Homo sapiens: one gene and its partners. The protein of the gene in region 1 purifies or fractionates together with the protein of each later gene. This does not show direct contact. Each region holds a gene or a part of one and is shown in the gene's direction. Other genes may lie near its edges.

Region 1 (3,558 bases):
TTAAACAATAATCATCATTTCTCGACACAGGCACAGAGCAAAAGGTTTTCCTTATTTGGTGTAACTTTATTGTTTGAGGATGTGGAACATAAAGCCTGATGTCACTTTGTATAAAATCTTACTTTATTAATTCCTTACTTTCACAAGAGAATGGGGGAAAATCATTAAATAATTATGTCAAAGCATCCCCTGAGGGCCTCCCATAACAATTACTTGCATGATGTGTTTTAAAAGCTTTACATTGGGATTAAAGTAAATGTTTTCATTTTCTACTAATTTTTTTCTTTTTTTTGAGATAGGGTCTCACTGTGTTGCCCAGGCTGGAGTGCAGTGGTGCAGTCTCAGCTCACTGCAACCTCCGCCTCCTGGGTTCAAGCAGTTCTCCTGCCTTAGACTCCCAAGTATCTGGGATTAGAGGCGCGTGCCACCACACCCGACTAATTTTTTGTATTTTTAGTAGAGGTGGGGTTTCACCATGTTGGCCAGGCTGGTCTCAAACTCCTGACCTCAGGTGATCTGCCCGCCTCGGCCTTCCAAAGTGCTGGGATTACAGGCATGAGCCACCACGCCCAGCCTACTAATGTTCTTTTCATTTATTATAATGTCCAAACTCACTATGAATATGTGAATTTTTAATATCTATTGCTTTTAACATATTTACTTGTATATTGCCCTCTTCGTGTATTTTCATATTCTTAAACAATTGGAATAGTTAAACTTTTCTTCTCATGTGTAAATACCTGTGGGCTGGACTTTCAGGCGTGTCTCACCTCACATCATGCCATGGGAAATTGTCAATAGTGCATTGGAACTGTGGAAGGCAATTGATATATCTTCCTCTAAAGTCCAAGACATTGTTTTGCTGTTTCCCCATTTTCTAAAAGGTGTTTGTCTTTGGAAATATATTGCTAACTACCATCTCTACATACAAATAAAATAATAATTTTTTAAATGTTTACTCTCCCATGTAAATCTGGATGGTGAGTGCCAGATAATATAAGAAACTGAAATACCATACACTTTTTAGCACTTGTCTTCCAAATGAAATGCTTTAATCCTAGTGTTACATTCTGATTACCTTAGTTATGGGGATTATAAAGATGTTTCTGTCACAAAGCAAATAAGAAACTACTTCAGCTCTTAGTTACACAGCCAGGCCTCACAAAAAAGTAGAAAGTAGTTCAGATTGAAAAGGTACCTGAACATTCTGCAGCAGCTCTGATAATGTGTGAGAAGGCAGCATTCTTCACTTCCTGCTGTATAGTTCTGCTCTCACAGTGGCTCACCTGAGGGCAGGGTGGTAGAGGCATGAGGTACAAAACATGGCATAAAAAACTCTGCAGAACGGGTTTATGAATGTGGCAGATAACTTACTTGGTTTGCAGTTTTTCTGTAGCTTTCTTTACCGTGACTTCTACCCATCCAGATGGGGAAAAGGGCTCCAGGTAGATACCATTTCAATTGTTTCACAGTCTTTATTTTTTTTTTATTTTTTTTTATTTTTTTGAGATGGAGTCTCACTCTGTCACCAAGGCTGGAGTACAGTGGCACAATCTCAGCTCACTGCAACCTCTGCCTCCTGGGTTGAAGTAATTCTCCTGCCCCAGCCTCCGGAGTAGCTGTGCGCCACCATTCCTGGCTCATTTTTGTATTTTTAGTAGAGATGGGGTTTCACCATGTTAGCCAGGCTGGTCTCGAACTCCTGACCTCAGGTGATCCTCCCACCTCAGCTTCCCAAAGTGCTGGGATTACAGACGTGAGCCACCTTGCCTGGCCTGTTTCCCCTCTGAATTGTTCTACATTTTAAAACCAGCATATTAAAAAATGACAGGAACTGAAGCACATAAATATCAGCTAATGTAAGTTTGAAAATAAGGCTTATTGGCGAGGCAAGGTGGTTCACATTTATAATCCTAGCACTTTAGGAGGCTGAGGTGGGAGGATCAGTTGAGGCCAGGAGTTTGAGACCACCCTGGGCAAGATTGTGAAACCCTATATTTACCAAAAAATTATAAAATTAGCTAAGCGTGATGGCTCGCGCCTGTAGTCCTAGCTATACTCCAGCCTGGGCAAGAGGGAGACCCTGTCTTAAAAAAAAAAAAAAAAAAAGAGAGAAAGAAAATAAGCTTATTGTGTATGTGCCCTGGGAATTCAGATTTGGAAAACATCTGACTGAATTAACATCTATGACTTACTTCACACTACATATTTTAAATTTTTAAATTAATCAGATGTCTGTCATATTTATTTTATATTATCTTTAAAATTTTTTCCTAAACAGCCAAATACATTTTTCAAGTAATATACATTCGTATGCATCTTAAAACTAGAAATTTAATTTTTTCTTCTGTATTGACCTTAATTTGGAAAATATTTATATGTAATAAAATTACGAGATGGGATCAGAAAGCTTTGTTGCTAACCTTGGTTGTTATAAATACATTTAAATTGTATTTCTTCTACATTAAGCCAAGAAAACAGGCTTTAATAGATTTGTTCATGGAGACATTTTTAGTATCAGTATAGATTTAAGAATATTTTACAGTCCATTTATGAAAAATATAAATATAAAGAGGCAATAACCAGACTGGTATTTTTACTTTACTTTGTAATAATAGTTTATAGCCTATTAATAATAACGTCTCTTTTTCTTAAACTTGGATTATCCAATCAGACCTTCAGAATTTGTATATTCAAAGAAGCATAACTTTCACAGGTAATTTCTATTTATTACAAATGTGCCCTTAGTCAAAGTGATACTTTATAAACAAGCAAATCAAAATTAAAATCAGCATTTGAAAGAAGAAAATTCAGATTATTTTAACATCTAAAAGGTTTCTTCCATAAATGAAGAAAAGTTAAGTGTTTTTCCTTCTAAAAACAAAACTTATTTTCAGTATAATTATTATATATTGTTTATTATATTCTAAATTCTAATTTTCGAAGATTCTTTTTCTTCCTAAAGAAGAATAAAGAAAAGATTTCCTTTTTTTTTTTTTAAGAAAAAGGTAATGTGAACTGAAACCTAATTCTGAATTTCAATTAATTTAGGTACGAACATTAGTGAGTTTTACATAAGATATTTCCTTTTAATATTTATACTGTGGAAATGGATAATAGTCTTTTTAAGAAAAATTCATAATCAGTGTTCTCTTTAATGGTTATAAAACATTAAATGATAAATGATGGCATTTCTGATCTTGGATCCTAGAAACTAAACTAAACTAGATTTTTGTTTTTGTCTTCAGAAATAATGTAGGGAAACCTAACTTATGAAGTATATACTTCTTAAAATAAAGGTGAGTTATTTTCCTGTTTATGACTTAGATAATCCAGGAAAGGAAGTTAATAAACTGAGTGAGCATGAACGATCCATCTCTCCACTACTTTTTGAAGAGAGTCCTTCTGATGTGCAGCCCCCAGGAGATCCTTTCCAAGTGAACTTTGAAGAACAAAACAATCCTCAAATACTCCAAAACTCAGTTGTTTTTGGAACATCAGCCCAGGAAGTGGTAAAGGAAATTCGTTTCAGAATTGAGCAGAAAACAACACTGACAG
Region 2 (3,097 bases), about 75 Mb from region 1:
GAAAGTGGGAGCATAGGCAAGGCATTGGGAACACAGGGTAGCTGCTGTTGCTCTTGCTCTCACCCCTGTTGACACCAGTAAGTCTGTGTCTCCCTCACTGAACCCTGCACGTTGAGTAACAGCAGCATAATTCCATCCTAGGAAAGGGGATGGGTGTTCCTTGGAATGGCATTGTATTTACCACCTGAGAAACTCTGTACTGTCTCTTGATCTGATCTCACTAAGGATCACAATGTCACAGATGAAACTTAAATGATAACCCAAAGGTAGACCTGCTGTTAATGATCCAGCATTGGTCACAATGTACCAACTGCTTTCTGCATTCCGTTAAATATCATCTAACAGTCTAAAACATATCCCTTCATTGCCATAATGGCTGCCATTTTGCCATAGATTTCCATATAACTGAAAAACTGAATTGTCACTTTATCTTTAGTATCATGATGATTGGAAAAACCTGTGAAGTTGTTAAGGCACTCTCATTTGCCCTCTTTTTCTAAGTGAATACAGGACACGTATTAGTTGTTCTTAATTTTTTTCCCAGTAAAATATGGATCTTTTAAGAAGAATTTGAGAAGCAAACAATTACATGTCATGTCAAGGGGGTAGCAGATTCCATTCGTTTTCAATATTGCCACAATACCCAGGGATTAATGCTGCCACAGGGGGGCAATCTTTATTTGTCTTACTTCCTACCCCTTCCCTGTTCTGCCTCTTTAACTCAGTTAAGTTGTTCTGTTTGGGACCTGGAAAAGAACCCAAAGAAAACCTGAGTGGACAGGTTCATTTCTGGAATGCAGAAAACATTTTAAAGGCTAGATTTTTAGAATATTCTCAACTAGCATTCTTTCCATTGATTTGAAGGGGAAATTAACTATTATAATCTCTTGAATCCAAAACTGGATATTAAGAACTTTCCCCCTTACTAAGTTTAAGACTTTTGTCATGTGGTGAGTCAAATAAGACCATTTTGATTGTAAACCATAAAATAGTTCAGCAAGTAGCCCACAGTTCTGGCCTAACAGCAGACTTGCTGTTTTCACTTGGTATCCTGGAGTTGGGTTGCTAACCTTAATTTCTATGATGTTTTCTAAAATGAAACTTGATAAAGTAGACCACCAGCTGCACCGTGTTTTCTGTAAAAGTATTGTTAGTAAGTGGCCAAGAGACTTGAGGAAAATACAGATTTTTTGTTTACCTTGGTCTTGTTTTAAGTCTTAAAAAATTAAAGATAACATTATAATGTAGAATACAGATGGGACATAGTCCTTGTAAGCTTCCCTTGAAAATGTTTTAAATATTTAGGAAGCTTTTAAAAGACACTAAATTGTACTCTAAAAGACACTAAATTGTACTAATTGTACAAAGGTCAAGCCAATTTTATGAAACAGTCCTACAGAGTAATATATGTGATGCAGTGTAAGAAGGAAAATACTCATCTCTAACATTATGGTAATAACATTTAGCCTCTTAGGAGTTGGAGCAGGGGGATGGGTAATTACAGATTTGCAGACTATAGAAAGAGTTTCATTTTTTTGTGACCCCACAGAGTCTCAAATTTTTATTTCACTACCTGCTAGAGCCTACTGTGAAATCACTGCTCCATATTTGCCAGTGGAGGAAATGGGCATAGAGTAGAGAATAGCTTCATATGTTTACACGTTTGCATAGACTACACACATGTCATGCGTTTATGGCAGGTAGCTGGTATTTATTCCCCAAAGTAATAATGTTGAAGTATGGGTCTCATCATTCCCATACACAGAAACACAAAACACTTTGATCATAAACTTTTTTCTTCAGAAGCCAAACTAACTTGCAGAATAATAGAGCCACTGGTTTAATGTTTCCTCAAGATAGGTTTTAGTGTAAGCTAGTATTCTGTGTGTTCGTAGAAATGATTCAATACCTGCAGCTGGTGAATTAGGAATTGTATTTGTTGCCTTTTTTATATTAGATGAGGTGCAAAAATTTTAATGCTAGTCAGTATGCACCACCACAGGAAAGTTAGATCCCATTAGCACTTGAAACTACAGCTTTGGAAACTTAGGCTAAGTTAATTTGGATTTGTTACTTGATTCACCTACTGACCTTTTCTTTTGTTTGAAGTGCTTATCAGCATAATGAGCTAAGTGTCATGCATATTTGTGAAGAAACACCCTTTTTGGTCCCTTTTGGGACAGAGAGGTACTCCTTGATCTTTATGAATGACAGGTTACTGTTTTGCCTTATTGCTTAACTTAATGTAGTGAAATAAAGCAGACAAAGCTTGAGCGTGTCTTTTGTTTGCTCTCATGTAGATACTAAGTAGCATGGCTCAGAGCCAAAAGACAAGCGTGAAGTTAAGAGAGTTGGCTAAGAGAGTTGGTGGGGCATGCTCCCTTCCATTCCTTAAATGAAGTAATCTAAAATCTCTTAGCAGGTTAGTTCACCATAATATATAAGTAGATGTTGCTTTGAGCTTCTTATATACATATTCACAGAACCATTATATAAATGTTGTTAGACCTCTACCAGTTTTTATCCTGGGTCATTGCTTCTAAAGATATCCTTTACAATATACACAGTGGTCTGACTCCACCAGTGGCCACTCATCACCTTCATCTGTACCTTCATAACTGTTCCTTCCCTCCTCTTACTTAGATGAATTATTCATACTCTTCCTGTTGGAACCCAGCCCCACCTCTTAACACTGAAGCTCATCCTCTTACCTATTCACAGATAGCATCGGCAGCTCCCTCCTTCCCTTTTCCATTAGCATGTGATTTCTCTCATCTTAAAAAAGAAATTGGCCTCACTCTCCTCTTCAGCTGCCACTCCATTTCTCCACTCCCTGTACAGCAAAACTCCTCTAACTCTGACTGGGCATGATCGCTCACACCTGTAATCCCAGCGCTTTAGGAGGCCGAGGTGAGAGGATGATTTGAGGCCAGGAGTTTGAGACAAGACTGGAAAACCTAACAAGACCTTGTCTCTGTTTAAGTAAAAGTTTTTTAAAAAACAAAAATGGCCAGGTGCGGTGGCTCACACCTGTAATCCCAGCACTTTGGGAGGCTGAGGCGGGCAGATCACGAGGTCAGGAGATCGAGACCATCCT
Region 3 (3,558 bases), on another chromosome or scaffold:
TTGTGGTGAGAAGATGGGGTCTTCTCCCCGGCAGGCTCTACACCCAGAGCGCCTACAAGAATGAGCTCCTGACCACCACAGTGCCCGAGATCCAGAGGACTAACCTGGCCAACGTGGTGCTGCTGCTCAAGTCCCTCGGGGTGCAGGACCTGCTGCAGTTCCACTTCATGGACCCGCCCCCGGAGGACAACATGCTCAACTCTATGTATCAGCTCTGGATCCTCGGGGCCCTGGACAACACAGGTGAGGCGGCCCCGGGAGCCTCATGGGTGCTGGCGCTTGACTTCCTTCTTTCCTCTACTGTCCCGTCAAATATCCGGGTTTGCTCATCTCTCCTAGGTGGTCTGACCTCTACCGGGCGGCTGATGGTGGAGTTCCCGCTGGACCCTGCCCTGTCCAAGATGCTCATCGTGTCCTGTGACATGGGCTGCAGCTCCGAGATCCTGCTCATCGTTTCCATGCTCTCGGTCCCAGCCATCTTCTACAGGCCCAAGGTGGGGCAGCGGCTGGCTCCCCTCTCCCCGGAGGGCTCGAGGAAGTGTTGGGGAGGGGAATGGCTTCTCTCTGTATTACTGAAATGGAACAGAGGGCAGAATCAGAGTTTCTGAAGAATGATTTTGCTGTTCTCGGTTAAGCAGGTTGGGGTAGGGGAAAGGAAGGGCTGGGCCAGTGGTTCTCAGGGAATGCTTTGGAAATTTGCAAGAGCATTTTTTATCTTCTAGTATGGTTGCTCTTGAGCCCTCATGTTTTAGAGTAGACCTTTTTAAAAATTATTTTAATTTTTCTCAAATTGTCAGGGCAACCTATTGACATGTTTGAAGTTCTATGTGTGGGTAGGTGGTAGTGTTAGAACCTCTGGGATGTGCTCAGTGGGCCTGGACCCCCCTGTACTTAGAGTGAAGGTTCTTTTTCCCTTCCTAGGGTCGAGAGGAGGAGAGTGATCAAATCCGGGAGAAGTTCGCTGTTCCTGAGAGCGATCATTTGACCTACCTGAATGTTTACCTGCAGTGGAAGAACAATAATTACTCCACCATCTGGTGTAACGATCATTTCATCCATGCTAAGGCCATGCGGAAGGTAGAGTGGTGGATGAGCAGGATGTTGGGATGAGGGGAGGGTCGAGAGGAAAGGAGGGCTCCCTCCTGGTGCCTCCGTCTCCTGCCCTAGGTCCGGGAGGTGCGAGCTCAACTCAAGGACATCATGGTGCAGCAGCGGATGAGCCTGGCCTCGTGTGGCACTGACTGGGACATCGTCAGGAAGTGCATCTGTGCTGCCTATTTCCACCAAGCAGCCAAGCTCAAGGTGAACCCAGGAGCCCAGTGAGCCCCTCCCAGCCTGATACCTGTATAAGGGCAAAGTTCTTCCTTTGTCCTGGTGTGGTTCTGCAGATCTGGGCTTCCGCCAAAGGCTGTGTCAAGAGTGTTAAGGGATGGGGTCGCTGCCCAAATGGGTGTTGTTTTCCTGATGTGGCTGCCTGTTGTGTCTCCTCCCTAGGGAATCGGGGAGTACGTGAACATCCGCACAGGGATGCCCTGCCACTTGCACCCCACCAGCTCCCTTTTTGGAATGGGCTACACCCCAGATTACATAGTGTATCACGAGTTGGTCATGACCACCAAGGTGAGTCTTTTCCAAGGCACTTGCATAATGCAGGCCCCCTGTCTGGCCAGGCTTTGAAACCCTTCACTGCGTTCTGGCATGAGCTTTTAGCCTGGGAGCCTTGAGGCCACATGCATTGTTTTGCGGGGCATGTGAGGTTGGTTTTCATTTGGGGACTTGGGGAAGCTCTGCACAGGGTTGACCTCTAGACTGCATTGACCTCAGCTGCATGGGCACGATTGTTCCCCACTTGCTGCTTGGGATGAGCAACCCCTCTTGGTGTCATTAGAAGGATTTTCGGAGGGGTTGGGCCTTTTCTTTTAGATACTGGGGGCATTTTCTCAAGTGTGGAGGAGTTTGGATGGGAGTATCTGGGGTTTTTCCTTTCCTTTTTTCAGCCTTGCAGGGCCAGGGATTGGGCCCTTCCCATGTGGCTCCTAATTGTGGAACCACTCTGGGAGGGACATTGGCCCTCCTGTGACCCTCGCCTCCCTGCCCTTCTGCCCGCAGGAGTATATGCAGTGTGTGACCGCTGTGGACGGGGAGTGGCTGGCGGAGCTGGGCCCCATGTTCTATAGCGTGAAACAGGCGGGCAAGTCACGGCAGGTGAGGATTCTGTGCTCTTCGCAGGGGTGCTGTTTGCCTGTGGGGTCGGTGTTCCCTCCGCTTGGTATTGAAGACTTGCGGTCATCCAACCCACTTACTTCTCTCTGCAAACATAAAGGCTGTGATCCAGCAGGCTGGGTCTGTCTGATTCCCCACCACCCACTCCAGTTGTTTGGTAGGCTGAGCCTTTAAAAACAAAACCAAAAAACTCATTATTGAAAAGTCCAAATATTCATGAAAGTGGGAAAAACAGTACAACAGGCCACCATGAATTCGTTGCCTTGCCTCTATAATTGTCAACGTTTGTTCAATTTCACTATTCCTACCCCACTCCACACACATCCATTTTTTTTTTCTGGAATATTTTAAAGCTTATCTCATACATTATTCATCCATAAATACTTGAGTATGTGTCTCTGACTAAAAGGACTTAAAATTTTAAATATAACCTCTGTGCCGTTATCACTCATAAAAAAATGAATACTTAATGTCACCTAAGTCTCCAGTCCGCATTTGGATTTCTCCATTTATCTCAAAGATAACTTCTTATGATCGATTTGCTTGAATTAGGATCCAGGCATTGCAACTGCTTATGTGTGTTAACTGTTTCATTCTAGAACAGGCTCCACCCCACGCTTTTTTTCATGACATTGATTTATTGGAGCAGCCAGGTCATTTGTCCTGTCGAATAGTCCATATGATGTATTTGCCTCATTGCTTGCTCACAGCGGTGTTTAACCTGTGCCTGTGTTTCGTGCACTTGCTGTAAGCTGGCGATGAGTCCAACCGCTCAATTAGATCCCGGCTGAGCTGCGTGTGGCAGAGATGCCTGCATGTGGCACTGTGAACCTCCTCTTAGATGCCTTCAGGAGGCATGTGAGGTCTGGTGGCCCCACCTTTGCTGATGGGAGGATGGATGAGGGGCCCCAGTGGTGGCAGCCTGCCTCTTCCCTGATAGGTTTCCACTGCTCCTCCATCTTGAGGTTTTAGCGTCTGTTGATGGCCATTGCCTAGATCCATATTTAGGGTTGCAAAATGGTGCTGGGCTTTGGCTTACCCCTTTTCGTAGCATAATTCTCCCCATACCAGGCTCCCTTGCATCTTATGCCTGTCTCTTCCAGCCAGCAGGTAATCACATCTTCCCTGTTTTTCTGTACTTCCTAGCATAGTTGTGAACTTGATTTTTCAAAAAAGAAGGAAATGTAAGTACTTCCTGGACTGAGGGATGACTGAGTTAGGACTGATTGTCCAGTGTCTTGAGTCAGTGAAAAAAGCAGGCCTCAGCTGCAGAAGAGAAGGCGGCTTTGGTACTGGGGCAGGCAGCCATGTGGAGCACTGGCCTGGTGGATGCAG
Region 4 (4,032 bases), on another chromosome or scaffold:
TTTTGATTCAACATTTTAGGCATTGTCTATCAACTTCCTCTTCTAGTACATTCCACCACCATCCTTTCAATGTAATTATATTTTAAATTTTAGAGCAATGTTCAGTGGTTACACTATGATTTCTATGCAAACATTATTCACACTTGAGTATATTAGTTTACTATTATATTTCCAATTTTATTTTTTGTTTCTCCTCTTGCTAGTAATTTCTTTATTTTACTTTCATTTATCTGGTTTTCTTGGAAGTTACTGCTAGCTTTTTCCACCTTCTAATAGCCTCCCAATAGGCTGTTTTAGAAGGCCAATAGCATCAGCTAGTCTAGCAAGTCTTTTTTCTTTTTTCTTGGAGACATTCTTTTTGGAGAAACCTGTTCTCTTTCTGTCAGGGCTCTTGGGGATCCTCAGCTCTCTAGGCCAGAGGACTGGCTGCCTTCTGGGAATTTGTTTTTCTCCTTTTTCTTTTTTGTTTTTTTGAGACAAAGTCTTACTTTGTTGCCCAGGTTGGAGTGCAGTGGCACAATCTCAGCTCGCTGCAACCTCCGCCTCCTGGGTTCAAGCAATTTTCCTGCCTCAGCCTCCCTAGTAGCTGAGATTACAGGCATGCACCATGATTCCCGGCTAATTTGCGTATTTTTAGTAGAGACAGGGTTTCACCATGTTGATCAGGCTGGTCTCAAACTCCTGACATCAAATGATCCACGCACCTCAGCCTCCCAAAGTGCTGGGATTACAGGCGTGAACCACCATGCCTGGCCTGTTTTTCTCCTTGTTTGAATTCCTACTTCATGGAGCTCCTATCTTCTTCCTTTTTCATTCTCCAGTGATTTCAACAACTTAGAGAAATGGTGCACTGGCGGAGGATATGGTGGTGGCAGTGCTTCAATTCTTTCGTCTCTCTAGTCAAACTGCCCCAGCCTAGGCTGGGGTTAAGTGGTAGAGGAGGAGTGTGGGTTCCAGGGAGGGATGTGGGAAGTCTCCTGGGCTCTTTTTCTCTTGGTGACAGAATAGTTCATGCCTTCCACCCCTCCCTTGTTTCTCAACTTCAACATTTGAAAAAATGAGGTCAAGTTTCCCACTGGTGAGCAATTGCCCATCCCATTGACAGTCATCCCACTGACATTCAGTGGGTGGTTCTGCTTCACAGAGGCTTGGGGCAGATGGGGAGGGGCCCTTCTGTTCCAGGCCTATATACTAGGAACTGTTAGGTATCAAGCTGTAGCTGGTAGGTACCAGCACCACCAAACAGAAGTGAACTAGTGAGTATGGGCTAAGAGAGCCCAAACTTGGACCTGTAGAGCTGTCGGACCAGGAAAGGGGATCTGTTTCGTCTCAGTCCCCAGGCTTTGCTTACTGGGCTCCTGGATCAGGGAGCTGAGTTCTCGCTGCCTCACCTCCAGCTCCCCAAGTCTGAACTGTGGTAAGCAGCCTAGACTGGACATCTTCTTGGCAGGTTCTAGTGTTGTCTTTTCTTTCCTGAATTATTAAATAGCTCTGCCAACATCAGAAATTTGCAGGGAAGCCCTGAGTCTTCCCATGCAGCCTGAAGCTTTGTTGTAAATTGATCCTGCTTTCACAGGCCTGCTTTTCCAAACTGGCCTATGACTCACAACCAAAGTCCCCTGTATCCTAACATGTTCCAAACATTTTCTTTCTCTGTCAGTATGTAGTCAAAATGTTGGTATTTGAATGGCAACAACTCTCTGTGTTCCCAAATTCTCTTTTGAACACTCTCAATGATGAATGTGACATTGTACTACTGAGATGGGTTCCCTATGGGCCTTAGGTCACAGGTGTATTTCTGGATTCTGAAGGCTTTCTATTAATTGTTGCTTTTCTTTTCCAAAGACTGCCACCTGGCCTACATTTTGGTTCTACATTAGAAACACAATTCAAAACTCTGCTCTCCTTTCCCGTTACTTTAGTATTTATACATGTCTCCAGCTTCTGGCAACATTTAGCCTAACTTTCTGGTTCCTGACTCTGTCTTCTATTTCTTTATCTTTTGAGTTTTTTCTGTCTCTCTCTTCCACCCAGGGCATAGACCAGTTTAAATCCTGCCTCTTTGCCCGGTGGCCTAGCTCTGGAAAACTCTGAAAAACCATTTTTCTCTGACTGCCAAATTTCTCATGTGGAACAGTTCCTGAGACGATTTCTGAGATGATCAAAAAGGATATGTAAATCACCTGGCACAAAGTCAGCACTCACAGGTGGCGGTTCCTCTTCCTATCATTATCTGGATTTGTTTCCTTATTTGAATTAGGAGACTTCTAGCTTTGCAATCCCTGTGTGACTGAGGCCAGGAGGCTGACATGTGAGGCCAATGGGTTGAGTGTAGATTTTTTTTACCTTCTTGCCATACCACAGCAGTTCCAGCAAATGTGCTCCAGCTTTCTATAGGTTCACACAGCCAGGGACAGTCTCACTTTTAAAACTTAAAACTTGGCCGGGCACAGTAGCTCATGCCTGTAATCCCAGCACTTTGGGAAGCCAAGGCGGGCAGATCACCTGAGGTCAGGAGATCGAGTCTAGCCGGGCCCGTATGGTGAAACCCCATCTCTACTAAAAATACAAAAGTGAGCTGGGCATGGTGGTGGGCACCTGCAATTCCAGCTACTTGGGAGGCTGAGGCAGGAGAATTGCTTGAACGTGGGATGTGGAGGTTGAGGTGAGCCGAGATCATGCCACTGCTCCCCAGCCTGGGCAACAGAGGTAGACTCTGTCTCCAAAAAAAATAAAATAAAAAACTTAGACTTTTTTTTCTTAATCCATCCGTCTAAGGAGGCATACAGAGCCTAATAAAGAACGTGTTGAGAGGGAAAGAGGAAGGGAGTGGGGGGAGAGAGAGAGACAGAGATAGAGTTTGGGGGAGAGAGAGAGAGATTGAGAGATTAACACACCTACATACCTTCCTACCCATTTGCCAACACAGTCACGTGTCACCTGACTAAGAGGCAGAGGGGAATGACTAGGAAAATTCCCCTGCGTTTCATCTGCTTGTCTTTCTTGGAGCTTTGCACATGTATCTCGTCTCTCCCTGGCCTCCGCTCTATAACTTGGCCAAGCCCCCAGAAAGCAGGGTGGGCCTCTCAGCAGTGGACCTCTCCTTTTGCCTCTTTCTCCAGGTCACTGGTCTTCTGGTCTGGACTTGATCCTTCCCCCAGATCACCATGGCCATGGCCAAGGCCAGAAAGCCCCGGGAGGCATTGCTCTGGGCCTTGAGTGACCTTGAGGAGAACGATTTCAAGAAGTTAAAGTTCTACTTACGGGATATGACCCTGTCTGAGGGCCAGCCCCCACTGGCCAGAGGGGAGTTGGAGGGCCTGATTCCGGTGGACCTGGCAGAATTACTGATTTCAAAGTATGGAGAAAAGGAGGCTGTGAAAGTTGTCCTCAAGGGCTTGAAGGTCATGAACCTGTTGGAACTTGTGGACCAGCTCAGCCATATTTGTCTGCATGGTGAGTGTGGAGCGGGGGAAGGGGAGGGCAGGATGGCACTGGGACTCCCCTCCCACCATGGCATTTCCAGAGCTGCCTGTAGCCTGTACCTTATGCCTTCTGTCACCTTGTCCTCTAGTCCCTGGTGCCCCAGAGTCCTTGGTGGTCTCCACCTGAGGGTTCCAACAACTGTCAGGAGGGGGACTGAGCCAAAGCTGGGATTTATTTAAGAAAAGACTAGCCTTTCTTCCCCACATCTTACCTCCAGCTGCAGTGGCAGAGAAGGGGAGAGTCTGAAGAAAGGGTCTTAGAGACTGGGAGGGTGTTGGTGAAGGGATTTCCACTAACCAGAAGAAATAGCATCAGGATGTAGGGGTCAGACCTGTCCCTAGCTGCTTCCTGGCAAGCTGCTCAGGCGCTTCTAAGTCTTCTGTGGCCCTGATCTCTCAAGGAACCACACTACAGAATGGGTGGTGTGGGACCTCATGGCCTGCTGGTTCTTCCTGTGGGTGCCTGGGGGGAGGGAGGGATCTTTTGGTGCCTTTGCTCCCTCCCATAGGCTCCTTTCATGCTTGAAAGCTCCTCTGCTACGTACAA

Evidence for each region.
Region 2: the proteins of POLK (region 1) and DCTN4 purify together in Homo sapiens (affinity purification with mass spectrometry, with the first as the bait; one large-scale study listed by BioGRID). This does not show direct contact.
Region 3: the proteins of POLK (region 1) and DHX38 purify together in Homo sapiens (affinity purification with mass spectrometry, with the first as the bait; one large-scale study listed by BioGRID). This does not show direct contact.
Region 4: the proteins of POLK (region 1) and NLRP10 purify together in Homo sapiens (affinity purification with mass spectrometry, with the first as the bait; one large-scale study listed by BioGRID). This does not show direct contact.

The regions. Positions count from the first base shown.
Region 1 is NC_000005.10:75,577,882-75,581,439, forward strand, and holds part of POLK (DNA polymerase kappa), read left to right. Parts: intron 1-2,674; coding exon of another isoform or gene 2,675-2,716; intron 2,717-3,327; coding exon 3,328-3,558. UniProt on the Homo sapiens protein: DNA polymerase specifically involved in DNA repair. Plays an important role in translesion synthesis, where the normal high-fidelity DNA polymerases cannot proceed and DNA synthesis stalls.
Region 2 is NC_000005.10:150,707,923-150,711,019, reverse strand, and holds the end of DCTN4 (dynactin subunit 4), read left to right. Parts: 3' UTR 1-2,580; downstream 2,581-3,097. UniProt on the Homo sapiens protein: Part of the dynactin complex that activates the molecular motor dynein for ultra-processive transport along microtubules.
Region 3 is NC_000016.10:72,107,306-72,110,863, forward strand, and holds part of DHX38 (pre-mRNA-splicing factor ATP-dependent RNA helicase PRP16), read left to right. Parts: intron 1-34; coding exon 35-243; intron 244-339; coding exon 340-494; intron 495-921; coding exon 922-1,077; intron 1,078-1,167; coding exon 1,168-1,302; intron 1,303-1,494; coding exon 1,495-1,620; intron 1,621-2,109; coding exon 2,110-2,205; intron 2,206-3,558. UniProt on the Homo sapiens protein: Probable ATP-binding RNA helicase. Involved in pre-mRNA splicing as component of the spliceosome.
Region 4 is NC_000011.10:7,962,631-7,966,662, reverse strand, and holds the start of NLRP10 (NACHT, LRR and PYD domains-containing protein 10), read left to right. Parts: upstream 1-1,215; 5' UTR 1,216-1,417; intron 1,418-2,988; exon of another isoform or gene 2,989-3,122; 5' UTR 3,123-3,167; coding exon 3,168-3,456; intron 3,457-4,032.